Linked DNA regions of Homo sapiens: region 1 is linked to region 2. A link means that fine-mapping ties the variant in region 2 to the expression of a gene that starts in the linked region. Tissue or cell type: whole blood. Region 2 holds a variant in brackets; the other region holds the start of a gene. All regions are shown on one strand. Distances are from middle to middle.

What was found. PIP is the estimated chance that this variant, and not a neighbour inherited with it, causes the effect.
Region 1: it holds the start of TTI1, and the variant in region 2 is fine-mapped to the expression of TTI1 in whole blood (TOPMed, PIP above 0.99). The same link has a PIP of 0.9 or more in hippocampus, pancreas and testis.

Annotation. Positions count from the first base shown.
Region 1 is chr20:38,028,617-38,036,761 of GRCh38, forward strand. It overlaps TTI1 (TELO2 interacting protein 1), which reads right to left and starts at 4,840. Exons shown (of 8, transcript NM_001303457.2): 1 at 4,788-4,840. It overlaps RPRD1B (regulation of nuclear pre-mRNA domain containing 1B), which reads left to right and starts at 5,130. Exons shown (of 7, transcript NM_021215.4): 1 at 5,130-5,482. The coding sequence starts at 5,332. LOC124904898 (a long non-coding RNA gene) reads left to right here and starts at 5,490. Exons shown (of 2, transcript XR_007067579.1): 1 at 5,490-6,789. RefSeq lists enhancers at 4,571-5,166, 4,697-4,966, 5,167-5,762.
Region 2 is chr20:38,058,687-38,066,881 of GRCh38, forward strand. It overlaps RPRD1B (regulation of nuclear pre-mRNA domain containing 1B), which reads left to right. Exons shown (of 7, transcript NM_021215.4): 5 at 708-834; 6 at 7,395-7,570. Among named protein-coding and RNA genes, the nearest start is that of RPRD1B, 29 kb to the left of the region's middle. The variant G/A (reference allele first, on the strand shown) is at 5,145.

The sequences.
Region 1 (8,145 bases), 30 kb before region 2:
AGGATATAGAAAAACCACCACCATCAACCAACAGGACCTATGACATTTATAGAACACTCCATCCTACAATAGCAGACTACACATTCTTTTGTTGTTGTTATTTGTTTTTTTAGACAGGATCTCACTCTATTGCTCAGGCTGCAGTGCAGTGGCTCGATGATGGCTCACTGCAGCCTCAATTTCCTGAGCTCAAGCAATCCTCCCACCTCAGCGTTCTGAGTGGCTGGGACTCCAGGTGCATGCCACTATGCCCAGCTAATTTTTGTATTTTTTAAAGACCGAGTTTCGCCATGTTGCCCAGGCTGTTCTTGAACTCCTAGGCTCAAGTGATCCTCCTGCCTTGACCTCCCAAAGTGTTAAGATTACAGGCATGAGCTACAGTGCCTAGCCCACATTCTTTTCAAGTGCTCATAGAACATAAGACAGATGATTATCCTGCCATAAAACAAACCTCAACAAATTTAAAAGAACTGAAATCATACAGAGTGACATTCCCCAGCCACAATGAAATCAAGCTTGAAATCACTAACACAGAGATAACAGGAAAATCTCCAAATACTTGGAAACTAAACAACATGTTTCTAAATAATCCACGGAACAGAGAGGAAACCTTAAGGGAAATTAGAAAAAAAATAGGGAAATGAATGAAAATGAAAATATGACACACCAAAATCTGTGGATACAGCTATAGCCATGCTGAGATGTAAATTAATAGTACTAAGTCATATATTAGAAAAGGGGAAAAGTCTCAAACGAAAAAGGTAAACTCCTACCACAAGAACCTAGACAAAGTAGAGCAAAATAAAGCAAGCAGAAGAAATAATAAGGAGCAGAAACTGACAAAACTGAAAACAGAAAACACAGAAAGTCAATGAAATAAATAACTGGTTCTTTGAAAAGGTCAATAAAATTGACAAACTTCTAGCAAGATTGACAAGGGAGTGAGTGAGCAAGAGAGAGAGAGAGAGAGAGAGGAGAGAGAAGAGACGAGACACTGATACTGGAAATTTCCAATATCAGTAATGAAACGGGACAGTACTACAGACCCTGCAGACATCAAAGGGTAATATGGGAATGCTATGGTTTGAATATCCGTCCCTTCCAAAACTCATGTTGAAATTTAATTCCCAATGTATTGAGAAGTGGAGTCTTTATAAGCCCTCATAAATGGATTAATGGGTTATCATGGGAACTGGTGGCTTTATAAGAGCAAAACAGACCTCAGCTAGCACACTCAGCCCCCTGGCCCTGTGATATCCTGCACTGCCTTGGGACTCTGCAGAGTCCCCACCAGCAAGAAAGTTTTTTACCTGATGTGGCCCTGTGACCTTGGATTTCTCAGCCTCCATAACTGTAAGAAATACATCCTTTTTCTTTATAAATTACCCAGTTTCAGGTATTCTGTTATAAGCAACAGAAAACAAAGACAGGGAATACCACAAATAGCTTTACCCATATAAATTTGACAACTTTGATGAAGTGGTTAATTCCTCAAAAAACACAACCACAATAGGAAAGAGATTATTTTAACAGCTTTATAACTTTTAAATAAACTGAATTTGTCACTTAAAAACTCCAGAAAAAAAAGGAAGAAGGGAAGGAAGGGAGGGAGGGAGGAGGGAGGAAGGAGGAAGGAGGGAGGGAGGGAAGCAGGGAGTGGAGGGAATCTCCAAACCAAGATGGTTTCATTGGAGAATTCCGCCAAACATTTAATGAAGAATTAACACCAATTCTGCACATACTCTTCTAGAAAAAGAAGAAACACTTTCCAATCCATTTTATAAAGCCAGTATTATCCTGATACCAAACCAAAGGCAATACAAAAATTAAAAAAATCTATAGACCAATTTCTCTCATGAGTATAGATGCAAAAATCCTAAAGAAAATATTAGGAAATTCAGCAGTATGTAAAACACACACACACACACACACACACACACACACACCATGATAAAGTGGGGTATATTTCAGAGATGCAAGACTGGCTCAATATTTGAAAATCAATTAGAGTTGTTAATACTAACAAGCTATTAACAAGCTTAAGAAGAAAAATCACATAATCATATCATCCTCACCTTTCAGACCTCTATATGTTGAAGAATCCTAGGACTCAGTCTCTTTTTACACCTTATTCCGTTATGACTCTCACATTTTTATCTCTAACCCAGATAGCTCTTCCTTGAATTCCAGACCCATAAACCCAACTGCCCCTTAGACATCTATACTCAGATAGGCATTTCCAAATGGACATGTCCAAATACAAATGCTTGCTCTTACTCTCCAAACCCACTCTTTTCTGTAATTCAGTAAATGGAAGCGCTATTCTTATAGTTGCTTAGGCCAAAACCCTTGGAGCTATCTCAACTCTCATATGTCTTTCACACCCCATATCCAATCTATCAGCGGATCCTGTTACCTCTTCCTCTAAAATATCCCCAGAACTGTCCCTTTCTTACCACTTCCACAGATACCACCCTGGTTTGAGTTATCCTTTCACCTGGGTTACTACAACAGCTGCCAAACTGGTCCTTCCTGCTTCTACCTTTGCACTCTTACTGTCTTATTTTCTACCTAACAGCCACAATGCTCCTTCTTTGTGCAAAACTGCCCAGTGGACTTCATTTCATTCAGAGTAACATCTAAAGTCTATACTATTGCCTACAAGTCACCATGTGATGCAGTCCCTTCGTACTTTTCTGAACTAATTTCCAGCCACCCTTCTAGTTCATATCACTCCAGCTTTATTGTCCTCTCTGCTGTTGCTCCAAAATGCCAACAATGGTATAAACTTGGTTTTCCCTCTTCCTGGAACAATGGCATATGGCTTGTCTCTCAAATGACATCTTATCAATGAGGCCTTCTCTGAGAAGCATAAGTAAAAGACTACCCACCTACACATATACATTCCTTATCCTCCTTATCTCCTTGATTTTTATTGAAGTTACTTACCACTTTCTGACTTATTCTAAACTTGCATGTTTGTTTTTCTATCTTTCTCAGTAGAAAGTAAGTTCCTGAGAACGTGGATTTTGTCTGTTAGCTTAGAAGAGTGCTTTGGACATAGGTGCTGAAAAATTATTTTCCGAATGAATGAATAAACTATTGGTTCAGGAGGCAAGAATTTGGGATCAGACATAAGATAACCCTAATTTGACTCCTGGCTCTGCTATTTCCTAACTATGTCCAAGTACATAGGGTACTTAACCATGCTTTACATTTTCTCGTCTATCAAATAGTGATTGTAATAATTTCAACTCCTAAGACTGATGTAAGAATTAAATTTAAAAAGTATGTAATGTGCTTAATAGACAGTGACTTGGTATAAAAGTGCTCAGTATATGACAGTGTTATTAATATGGAAAGATGATCTAGATTTCGACACAAAAGCCCTCAGTTATGACTAGATACTCACTGTATGATTTTAGGTTACTCACCTCTTTTACACTAACTCACTTGATAAATCAGGAACTGGGGCCAAAAAGATGGCTAAGTTGCAGCCCCTTCCCTCAAGTCTTAGTAATGTGATCTTGGGTAGGTCACTTAACCTCTCTGAGCCTGTTTCCTACGCTGTCCAAAGGGGGATAATATAATACCTCACAGCTTTGTTGTGAGGATTAAATGAGTTACTGTGTGGGAATTGTGTCTAGCACATAGTAACCTCTCACTGCGTTAGCTATGATTATGATTCCAGTCTGGAGGAAGGGTAAAAGCATGTAAGCAAAGAACTGCAATACAGTGCAATAAGAGCAAAAGCAGGCATCAACTAGAAGAACGTCTCCTAAACTAGAGTCTGCCCACAACTAGGAAGTTATACCACGATCAGGAAATTTTAAAACCCTCTTATGTCTATAACTTAACTCCCTACCATCACCCCCGTGGCAGTAAGAAAAACAAAATTTCTCTGCTGCTTTGATACCTGGGATTTAAAACTTAAAAAAAAAATAGGGTCAAGGTTTAGAGTCTCAGATAGTGTTTTGTTTTGTTTCAGAGAAGAGTCTCGCTCCATCGCCCAGGCTGGAGTGCAGTGGCACGATCATAGCTCACTGTAACCTCTAACTCCTGGGCTCAAGGTATCCTCTCGCGTAGCTGGAACTGCAGGTGAGCGTCACCATGCCTGGCTAATTTTCGCTGTTACCCAGGCTGGTCTTGAACTCCAGTCCTCAAGCTATCCTCTCGCCTCGGCCTCCCAAAGGGTTGGGATTACAAGCAAGAGACGTTGCGCCAGGCCTCAAATAGTGTGTCTCAACATGAGGTCAACAGACACATTGGGAAGGCTAAGTTAGTTCCCTCCACCTTTTCCCTAAAGTTAACACCTCACTTAAGTTCGAAAAAGTCAACTGGACCCGCAGACGGCAAAAGCAGCACGTAATAATACCCTGAGTGAGAACCCACTTAAGAGCCGAGAGCCCAAATGTGTGTTTCATGACGGCGCTGTTACAGACTAAAAGGTCAAAACAGGACATTAAAGGGTGCTCCGGGGGGCTGAGTAGGAGCTCACCAGGTGAGAAAGGGGATGTCACTTTCGGACAGAGAACGAGCGCCAGGGCGTGGAGGCGTGAAAAGGGCACGTGGGTGGCTTGGAAGAACCAAAACTAAGTGTTTTGGGGGACAGCCAGAGAGCCGAACACATATGGAGGAAAGATGCGGCCTGGGGCCCGCCAGATTAGAAAGGAAATCCCCCTCCCATATCCAGATCATGATCTCTCAGACTCAATGTCCCCTCAGGATACCCCTCTACAGGGTCCCAGCTGCTGGGCTCCCTCTGGTTCCCGCCACTCTTCCCTTACCTCGTCTTCCAGCCTTTCTCTCACTCTCCCGCCTCCTCTGCCTCGCCGGAAGTGACGCGCTAAGTAGCGCGCCGTATCGCGCCAGAAAGGTTCCGAGGGAGCGGGAAAAAGGGTTCCGGCGAGATCCACTGCGCCGGTGTGCAGGCTCGAGCGGTCAAAGCTCTTTCCGGGGGCCCGGGGAACTACTCTCCTTGCCTCGCTCTGTCTCCTTCGAAGTGCTCTGCGCGAGGTTCAGAGCGGCCGCCGCCTCCAAAGGGACGGTTTTCTAGAGCTCCGACGCCTCTCGGTGCCCCTCTGCTCCGGCCCTTGCCCTTTGACCTCGCTCTCGCGGCAGGGTGAGAGGTCGGGTGGCCATCTTGTGGCGGCGGCGCGGGCGGCTGTTACTGCGGAGACCCATCCCCTCCCCCTTCTCGCACCCCTGGCAGTCTGTCAGTCGGTAAAAAGTCCCGCAGCCTGTCAGGTGAGGCCCCGGCCTCGTGCCGTCGCTCTTCCCGCCGCACTGGGCGGCCCAGGCCGCTCCCTGCCGGGCCTCACTGCCGCCACCATGTCCTCCTTCTCTGAGTCGGCGCTGGAGAAGAAGCTCTCGGAGCTGAGCAACTCTCAGCAGAGCGTGCAGACCCTGTCCCTTTGGCTCATCCACCACCGCAAGCACGCGGGACCCATCGTCTCCGTGTGGCACCGCGAGCTCCGCAAAGGTAAACACCAAATCCCCACCCCCTGGACGGTCCCCGGATTGTCCTCTCGCCCACATACAACCTAGGCCCCTCTAAGCCTCTTCATTGAGCCTTGCTTTCCAGGCCTGATCGAGCTTCTGAGATGGGAGACAAAGTTAGCCCCATTTCTCGAAGAAGGAAACTGAGGCCCGGGAAGGTTTAAGGTACTTGCCTGAGGGTCCACGGACTGGGACTCAGGTGTCCAGACTTCTAGTTCATCAAGCCATTTTCCCTTCAGTTTCCCCCTGACATTTGTGGCTGTTATTATCTCGGCTGCATTCACTGCCGTACTGGCCCTAGCATGTCGGGCCCAGTGCTGGGTATTTGGAGTAAAAGCCAGTGGGCTCCGGAGTCAGACTCTGCAGATCGAGTCCTGGCTCAGCTATTTGCCAGCTGAATAATACTGGGAGAGTTTCTTCATCTCCCTGTGTCTCCGTTTTCTCATCTGTAAGAGGGAGGCAAGGATAGCTACCCCTTACAAAGCCTTTACTTCATACCAGTCACTATACTAAGACCTTTGTGTGTATCCTCGCACTCAGTCCTTAGAACAGCCCTGTGAAGTAGGTAGTCTCTCCCATCTTAGGTTAAGGGGCCACCCAGACCTTACCTCTCCTCTCCTCTCCTCTCTCATGCAGTTGTCATTGATTTCAGGCCCTGCTCAGGTTCTGACAGACAATTCATTGAACTCATTCTGTTATGTGCCAGGCACTGGCTTGGACACTTGCAGCATGTTGCCTCTGCCAACTGCCTAGAATTTAAGCCTGACTTTGCCGCCTTACTGACCCCAGCAACTTAACCTGTCTGTGCCTTAATTTTCTTATCTACAGAATGGATAACTGAAATTTACTATGTCTTTATTACATGCGAAGTGCAGTACTGATATCTTTACATACATTGCCATTAAAAAAAATTCTCGGAGCCCTATGAAGTAGGAACTTTGCAGAAGAGGAAAAACTGAGACTCATCTCGTGGTGAGGAGTAAACGGGATAATCCAAATGAACATTTAGCATGGGGTGAGGCACAGTGTAGGCATTCAGCAGATTATGGTGAGATGAGACTTTTGATTACTCACTGTGAGGCATGGTCTTTACCTTCAAGTTGCTTACAGTCTGGTGGGGAAAGATGGACACCTACACTCCCGGATGAGTTTCATAATGGAAGACTGAAGAAATGAAGCTCAGAGCTGCTCCAGACACCCTATATGTGGTAGGCCTTTATAGCGAAGTGGCTTTACAAGTGTTCTATACTATCTGTGAGTTGGGGACACCACAGATGTCCTGCTCTACAGGTGAGGAAACTGAAGTGGCTAAGTGGTATTTTCAAGGCTTTCGAACTGAACAGGCTCAGACTACAACAGGCTGGCAAACACCAAAATCTTCATGATTTTTTTCAGGAGACCCAGTTCTAGCCCTTTAGCAGGGACTGCCCCCAAATATCGCGTACTGTACTGAGATAGGGATCCCCTCAGCCCTTCGGGCAGTTCCGGGAAGAGGTAGAGCCTGGAGTTTATGGGGCCTTCTTCATGTACCCCACTGTGCCATTCAGAAATTATTTGAAGAGTGTGCTGAAATGTGAATTGCCACTGTACAGAATTCTATTGGGTGGGACCTCAAGAGGCAGTTAAAGTCCATCTCAGGTGTCATTTTTTTTGTTTTTTTTTTTTTGAGATGGGGGTCTCGCTCTGTCACCCAGGCTGAAGTGCAGTGGTGCGATCTCAGCTCACTGCAAGCTCCACCTCCCGGGTTCATGCCATTCTCCTGCCTCAGCCTCCCGAGTAGCTGGAACTACAGGGGCCCGCCACCACACCCAGCTAATTTTTTGTATTTTTAGTAGAGATGGGGTTTCACTGTGTTAGCCAGGATGGTCTTGATCTCCTGACCTTGTGATGCCCCCGCCTCGGCCTCCCAAAGTGCTGGTATTACAGGTGTGAGCCACCACGCCTGGCCAAGTGTCACTTCTTTTGTGACACTTTCTTGATTCCTTGCCTCACCCTAGTTGAGTTACTGAAAAAAAGCAAATTAGAGAGTACATTTGTGTATGAAGCTCCGTTATCCCTAATCTTACGTGGTAAAGCCTTATGTTGCAAGTAGGCTAGCATTATTATCCTCATTTTATAGATGAGATGATAAAGGTATAGAGGGATTAAGTGCCTTGTCCACAGACATACAGCTAGGACATGAGCCCAGGGCTGCCTGATGCCAAAATGTGTTCTTTTTCATGTACTCAGTGCCTCAATGCATTTAATAAGTGAAGGTGGTCACCTGACTGCAATCAAACTGTGGTGCTTTCATTTATTAGAATTAATGAGTGCCTCCCACCCCATCATACCAGTTTAGCATTTAATTTGTTCCTACTAGCTGTTCATTTGAACTGGTTACATCTTTGTCATTAGATTATGTTTTGAGAGAGGAACTAGACCTTCTTGTTTATTTGCAACACCACAGGATATCGCGTGGTGCCTGTTATATAGTTTAAAAATAGGAATTAAATCATGGTCTCTGATAGAATTTTCGTGGTTGAGTAAAGGATCTAAACAGCGCTATCCAATACAACTTTCTATGATAGCAGCATAAAGGATATAAACAGCGCTATCTAATACAATTTTCTGTGATAATAGCAATGTTTTCTATCTGTGCCATCCAAC
Region 2 (8,195 bases):
TTGATCAGTCAACATATAATTTTTTCCTTCTCCTTCTTGAGACAGGATCTTGCTCTGTTACCCAGGCTGGCGTGCAGTAGCATGATCATAGTTCACTGCAAACTCAACCTCTGGGGCTCAAGTGATACTCCTACCTCAGCCTCCCAAGTAGCTGGGACTATAGACATATGCCACCATGCTTGGCTTATTATTTTATTTTAATTTTTTTGTAGAGACAGGGTGTCGCTATATTGTCCAGGCTGGTCTCGAACTCCTGGGCTCAAGTGATCCTCCTGCCTTGGCTTCCCAAAGTGCTAGGATTACAGGTGCGAGCCACCACACCTGGCCACAACACACAGTTGTTAACATCTGATATTTATACCTTTATTCTATACTGGAAATGATACATCATTTGAAATTAAGCAACATGAACCAAACTCCATTGTTTTGAATTGCCAAAAACATGTTCTTTTAGAATTAAAAAATAATAATAATTATTCAGAATTTCATTCATGTTCTGCCATGGACTTAGATAAACTAATTTTGTGGATTTTCTTAGAGTCCGTGACATTGACTTACATGTAAGCTCTGGGGCTAAGAACAGTTTTTTTTAAGAAATGGCAGGAATGACTGTTTTTAGAATTTGCCTCCACCTCATTTAACTCCAACTAATTTTCTTTAAACCCCATGTCTTAATGGGTAGTGTTGTTTGTGTTTTCATCTTACAGACTGAGGAACTAATCAAAGCTTTGCAGGATCTGGAAAATGCCGCATCAGGGGATGCTACTGTCCGACAGAAAATTGCTTCTCTGCCCCAGGAAGTGCAAGATGTTTCTCTATTGGAAAAAATAACAGGTGAGAAGGTAGAGTTTGGGTGAAAGGTGAGGAGAGAGGGACATAACTGTAATGCAGTAACCCTAGGCCATACTTAACGTCTGCAGGTATAGACTACTTTCCATGTTGTATTGGTTGCTCTACCATCTTGGGATTTGCAAACATAACTCACATGGTGAACAAAGAAACTTTTGAAATAGTCAAAGCTTGAATAGTGATTCTAGGAATTATTGCAGAAATGCTGGTGTGCCACAACCTGTGGCTCTCTAAATAAGGTCTGTTAAAAACATAGTACAAATTGTGTGCGTGTGGGGTGGGTGGGGGAGATTAGGTATTATTCTGTCTGTTAGACTCATAACCCTCTTACTAAAAGAAAAAAAATTATGATTCAGGGCTGTGTGATTTGTGCCCTGCTCTCTGACAAGCCCCGTAGATGATAGTGCGTTCAGTGCCAGGAATTTCAGGTGTCTGTTAGACATGTCATTTTGCCCTAGTCGTGACCTCCCTAGTTAAACAGGGAGGGGCAGTTGACACGATTCCTGCTTTCCTTATGGGAAATTGAAAGGAAGGAATGAAGCATGAACTAATATTGACAGTAGGCTTTGCACCGGTACTTCTGTTCTTTGTGATAGTCTTTGGAGGTGACTAAATGTGTGTCTCCATATTGCATAGGAGGACATTGAGGCTTTGAGAAGATAGGTGTCTTGTCCAAGGTCACACAAGTAGTGGATCTTGGGATTCTAATCTAGGCTGCAAAGCCTATGTTCCTCCCCTTACAAAAGCTCAGACCTTTCATTCCATTGTCTTCCAAAGGCCACCATTTTCCCACTCCAGTCCCTTGACTTGGCTGCTTCTCTAACTTCTTCCATATCTATCTAAAGGAAATCAAGGTCACTGATGAAATATTTCCCTCAACAAATATTTGAGGCCCACCTATATCCCCTCAAGTGAAGTGTCAAGAAGGAAAATAAAGCAGGGCAGTGGGAGCGGAAAATGATTGCAGGCGGTATTAATGGTATTTTAAAGGTGTTTGGGGAAAGCCTTTCTGATGAGATGACCTTGAGCAGAGACCCGAAAAATTAGGAAGCAAGCCATGAGGATATCCAAGGGAAGGAAGGGCCACCAGGCAGTGGAAGCAGCACAGGGAAAGACCTCAGGCAGTGGGCGTACTGGGTTGGAGAACACAGCTCGGAGGCCTTGTGAGTCACGCAAGAAGCATCTCAGCCCCTCACTCTGCTTTCCCACCCCAGGAATTCACCCCACTGGGACCTGCAGTCTCTTGATTCCTCCCCCACCTCTTCCTAGTCCTCGAGTCCTCATTTTCTTCTTTATTCAGATTGGAGTCTCTCTTTTCACTTCCTCACACACACCTTCAACCCATTTTCTTCTCTTTCTCCCTTCAGTGTAGTCTCCTGGCAAAATCCCTAAACAGGTTAAATCACATTTTAAAAATACTTACTACTAAAAGGACCACTTCATTTATTCTTACTGTCAAAATCATAATCTGCAAAAATTGCAAGCAAGTTAATGTAAAGCTAGCCATGTATGTAATTTTGTTTCTCTGTTTCACTGACCTAAAGGTCTCATGTAGCTTCCTTTTAAAATACTTTTTTAATTTTGATTTTTAATTGTGGTAAAATACATATAAAATGGTAAGCTACATAAAACACAAAGGTGTACAATTTAGTTGTGCTAAGTATTCTCATGTTGTTATACAACCAGTTTCCAGAGTTCTTTTCGTCTTGCCAAACTGAAACTCTATACCCGTTAAACAATAACTCATCATTTTTCACTTCCCATATCACCTGGCAACCACCATTCTTAAATTTAGCTTTTTGTCTGTTCCTTTCCCGAACCTGTGTAGTGGAATGTGGCTGGGAAAAACTAACATGTCTGAGTTGACTTTTCCTCCTATTTCTCTACATGGACATGCTATTTTCTAAACCCGCCTCTCTGTGTATTAGATCTGCTCCTTCTCATCTAGCCAAGGCCATTGCTCCAACAATGCTCCCTCTTTCTCCTGCATTCTCCATTTTTTACTCTTTACTGGATCATTCTCAATAGCATAAAAACATGAATTTTTCCCCCACTTGGGAAGATTTTTTTCTTGACCTCATATCTTCCTCTAGCTACTGCCTCATTTCTCTGTTCTTTTTAGCCAAACCACCTGAATGGATTGCCTGTGCTGTCTCTCTACTTCCCGTCCTCCCAGTTGCTGATGACTTCCTTGTTGCTGAACTCAATGGTGGATTCTCTGCCCCCATCTTAACTTCACCCCAGTAGTATTTGGCCCAGTAGATTATTTCTTCTTCCTGAAAATACTTTCTTCACTTGGTGTAGTAGTTGGAATAATGCCTCCTGACCCCCCACCCCGCAAACACCCATGTTTTAATCCACAGAACCTGTGTATATGTAATCTTATATGGCCAAGGGACTTGGCAGGTGTGATTAAATATCTTGAGATGAGGAGATTACCCTGGATTATTTAAGAGGGCCCAGTGTAATCACAGGGTCCTTGTAAGAGGAAGGTGGGAGAGGGGGAATGAGAAGGAGGTATTACCGTGGAAGCAGAGGTTGGAGCGATGTGCTTTGAAGATGGAGGAAGCAACTGTGATAAGGCATAAGATAATTAATTGGTGATATTCCAAGCCACTAAATTTGTGGTAATTTGCTACAGTAGCAGTGGGAACTAGGACCCTGCATTATTCTAGCTTTCCTCCTCTCTTTCTGTGTCTTTTCAGCCTCCTTGCTGGTTTCTTCACTCCTCCTTGACCTCTTCATATTAGCCCCCTTCTTTAGCTGGTTTCACTGGCAGCCATTCTCACCCAATTTCATGACTATAAATAAGAGTTTTTCTGCGAATGATTTCCTAATTTACATCTCTAGTGTTGACCCTTCCACCTTGAACTTGAGACCCATATATCCAACCTCCTACTCAGTTTTATTAGTTGGATATCTTGATAGGCATTTCAAGCTTACTCTGCCCCACACTGAACTTCTGACCTTTCCTCTAAAACTTGTTTCACTCATGGTCTTCTCCATCTCAGTAAATGGCCCTCATCATTCCTGTTGATTGGGACCAAAACCAGCATCTGATATCCTGTCACCGCCTCTACCACTGCCACCTGGTACAGGTCTCTACCATGTTCAGTTGATTTATTGCAGTAGCCTCCCAGCTGGTCTAGCTACTTCGTTTGTTCCTCTTGCTCAGCCATCATTCTAGTCTCAACATAGTAACCAGAGTGATCCTCTTAGTAGAAGGCAGATCATGTCTCCCGCTCCACATAACACCCCCACGACTCCCCCCATCACCAAATTAAAAGCCAGAGCCCCCCCCCCTTTTTTTTTTTTTTTGAGATACAGTCTCATTCTGTCACCCAGGCTGGAGTCAGTGGCATGATCTTAGCTCATTGTAACCTCAAACTCCTGGACTCAAGCAATCCTCCCATCCTGGCCTCCCAAAACACTGGGATTACAGATGTGAGCCCCCTGCCTGGCTTTAAAGCAGAGTCTTTCACTGGCCTCTGTTACCGCAAGACTTTTACTATTTTCCCCTCACTCACTGCTCAAGTCATATGGGCTCCTTGCCAGTCACTCTTTCCTCCTAGCGCCTTTGTACTTGCTGTCCCCTCTGCCTGAAACGTTCCTCCCAGATAGTTACATAGCTGGTTCTCATTTTCTTAGGCCTTTGTTTACGTATCACCTTAGCGAAGCTCACCCTGACCACCTTTTTGAAAATGTTGATCCCCCCCACCTTCCAGTGCCCCACTTTTTCTCCTCTGCCTTGTTTTTCTCTGTAGTTCTCTTCAGCTGATAAGTAAGCATAATATTTATTGTATATTGATTCTCTTCCTACCTGATAATATAAACTTGAGGGCAGAGAGTTTTTGTCCTTTTTATTCTCTGCTGTTTCTAAGAGCCTAGTTATAAGAACTCAAATTTGTTAAACTAATTGGAAGGTTTTGAGCAGAGGATTGGTGGGCATAAAGCCCGATTGGGGTGGGCTCAGGAGGAGAGCAGGTGGCTACACTTCTCTGAAAAGAGTTTAGCTGCAAGGGGGAGCAGGGAAGCAGGTCAGTAGTGGGAGAGTGGTATGTAGGTGGAATACATGGCAGCAGGTTTGTGTGCTAGTGGTTTTCTTAGGAGGGAGAGAGAGAATTTGCTGAGGTAGAGAAGACATGGGACGGCTGCAGAAGTTTAGTCTTTGAGGAAACGAGGGAATGGGATGCGCATGCCGCTTGGAGGACTGGCCGAAAGAGGCACTTGCCACTCCTCTGATGGGTGAAGGAGAGCAGGGAGCGTGAGGACAGCGTGGGTAGGTCCCCCGAAGC[G/A]AGCATCTGGCTTCTGCATTTTCACTGCGTATTTGTATAACTCACTAAACTATTATAAGTTACTTTTCTGGGTTGTAATTATTTGTGTAAATGAATTATTTCCTTTGTAAAAGTTCTTGAGGCTGCAAATTGATTTTCTTTTTAATCTTAAAAATTAGTATTTGCCATTTTTTGCCACAGGCACCTAAACATCTTAGTGAATTAACCATTTTTTAAAAACGATCAGTCAAGCAATAACAAAACTAAAACCAACCTAACCACCCCAGGAGCTTGCTCATGGACTGAGCCACTGAGCAGGAAGGAGAAGTTGGCGGTCCTTTATCCTCTGTGACTGAGGTGATCTCTTTCCTTTGTGTTCCATTCCGCTCACTTCTTCCCCTTCACCAAGGACATTCTTTGTTTCCCATCCCTGAGGAGGGTAGAGGTTCCTAATCTTTGGCATCACACCCAATCTGGAATCCTTCAGCAGTTCCTCTTGCAATATTCACATTAAGAAGGCATCGAAAAGCCAGATGGCTGTTTGCCAGAGATACTGTGTTGGGGATTCTTAAATCCTAGTTCCCCAGGAGAATGCGAGCTCTCACCTCTGACAGCCTGTATCCATAGGGAATGTCATGGAACTGTCCCACGGTACTGCCGGAGTCTCTGGTGCCCTTTGTTTCAAAGCACCAACCTACTCTTTTGATTCATTCAGGTCTTTTAAAAATGAGTTATACATATTTAAAATTCGAATCTCACCACCACCCACACATAATTAATTATATCAGTTCTTTGTAAATACAGATCCTGCTTTTTCTTCTCATTTCTTAATTATGAGCCTTTGTTCATCACTTCTTCCCAAAAATACCCTTTCTTAATGTTTTTCCACCCCCAAAGCATGAGTTACAACCCATTAATTGGATATGAAATCAGTCTGGTAGCTAATGACCAACAGTTTTTGAAAAATGGAATAAAGCCATCCTGGCTAACACAGTGAAACCTCGTCTCTACTAAAAATACAAAAAAATTAGACGGGCGTGGTGGCGGGGGCCTGTACTCCCAGCTACTCGGGAGGCTGAGGCAGGAGAATGGCATGAACCTGGGAGGCGGAGCTTGCAGTGAGCCGAGATCATGCCACTGCACTCCAGCCTGGGTCACAGAGCAAGACACCATCTCAAAAAAAAAAAAAAGAGATAAAATAGAAGATAGAGCACACATAGTAAGAATGGGTATTTTATGAAACGCTGCTTTCATTTTTCTGTGTATTTACATAAGTGTATTTCTGCTGTGGGTCATGTTCAGAAACATTTAAAAACCTCTTTCTTATCAGACTTTACATTTTGTCAAATGTAGGAAGAAGTTCATCCCCACGTCCAAGGCTTACATAGTTTAAGAGATAGAGTGCTATAGATCATTTTAGAGATCTGGCTTCGAGCCCCAGCATCTCAGCTCACTGCATATAGAAACCTGTCATGTAGTTTTTTTTCTGGCGGGGAGGGGGTCTTAGTTCCCACACCCAATAAATAAGTGCATGCTATTTTTTATTCCAGTGGAAAGTAAAAAGACTACTTAATGAAATATAGTGGTCCCTCCATATCCATGGGGGTTTGGTTCCAAGACCTTCTGAGGATACCAAAATCCAAGGTTGCTCAAGGCCCTTAAATGGTGTCGGATTTGTCTATAACCAACAAACATCTTCCCATATACTTTAAATACTCTCTAGATTACTTATCATAGCTAATGCAATGTAAATGCTATGTAAATAGTTGTTATTCTGTATTTTTAAAATTGGGTTTTTAATTGTTATTTTTATTGGTTTGTGGGGTTTTTTGGTCTGAGTATTTTCCATTCATGGTTGGTTGAATCCACAGATACAGAACCCACAGATATAGGGGCCAACCGTAATATAAATGAAAGCACTTGCAATTCTCAGAGACAAGGAACGATTTTTTCACAGGTGATCTTCAATATCTCTTTATGCTTGTTTTGTCAGGAGAGCTTTTGCAGGAACAGGCATTTAGAAAGCCTTTGCCAGATTCCCCCCATGTACAGCTTCCTCACTTCAGGTAATTGAGTAGTGTCCTGTCTTGTTGACAGAGTGAATGCCTTTGGATTTCTTGCTTAATCAACTCATTGTTTGTCCACAGGTGCTGGCTTATTCTCAGACTCTGTATATTGGGAGAGAAACCGTTAACCTCCCCCAGAAATGTTTGTAGTCATACCTGTGTGATTTGTATATTTTCTCTATTTTTTGGTCTCATTTGTACTTAGACAAAGAGGCAGCTGAACGTCTTTCAAAAACAGTAGATGAAGCATGTCTGTTACTAGCAGAATATAACGGGCGCCTGGCAGCAGAACTGGAGGACCGTCGCCAGCTGGCTCGGATGTTGGTGGAGTATACCCAGAATCAGAAAGATGTTTTGTCGGAGAAGGAGAAAAAACTAGAGGTGAGTGCATTGAAGGCAGACCCAGACTGCCCACGTTTCCCTTCCTGTAGCCCACATTAGGAGGTTTTTATTATGCTTTAATTAACAACATTTTTATCGTTTAAAAATTCATGATGTGAATTCTGAACATCCATCAGATACTGTAATTATTTGAGCCCAGTTAAAAATTGAAGTCATGTTCTTATATGTCCAGGACAGAACAAACTGGATTGTAGGAAACAAACAGTGAACTCTTAATCACAGCCTTAGGATCTTAATATTGCTTTCGTTTGAACTCATGTTTTTAAAAAAATTACGAATTGAGGTACAAAAAGGATAGCAAATCAGTGAAAACCAAAGAATATGTTTGGTAGTATTTGGGAAGTGCTGAAAAATGTTTCTTTCAAGTCATTTGGAGGTTTATTTCTTTTTTTTTTTGAGACGCAGTCTCGCTCCGTCGCCCAGGCTGGAGTGCAGCGGTGCGATCTCGGCTCACTGCAAGCTCTGCCTCCCAGGTTCACGCCATTCTCCTGCCTCAGCCTCCCAAGTAGCTGGAACTACAGGCGTCCACCACCACGCCTGGCTAATTTTTTGTATTTTTAGTAGGGACGGGGTTTCACCATGTTAGCCAGGATAGTCTTGATCT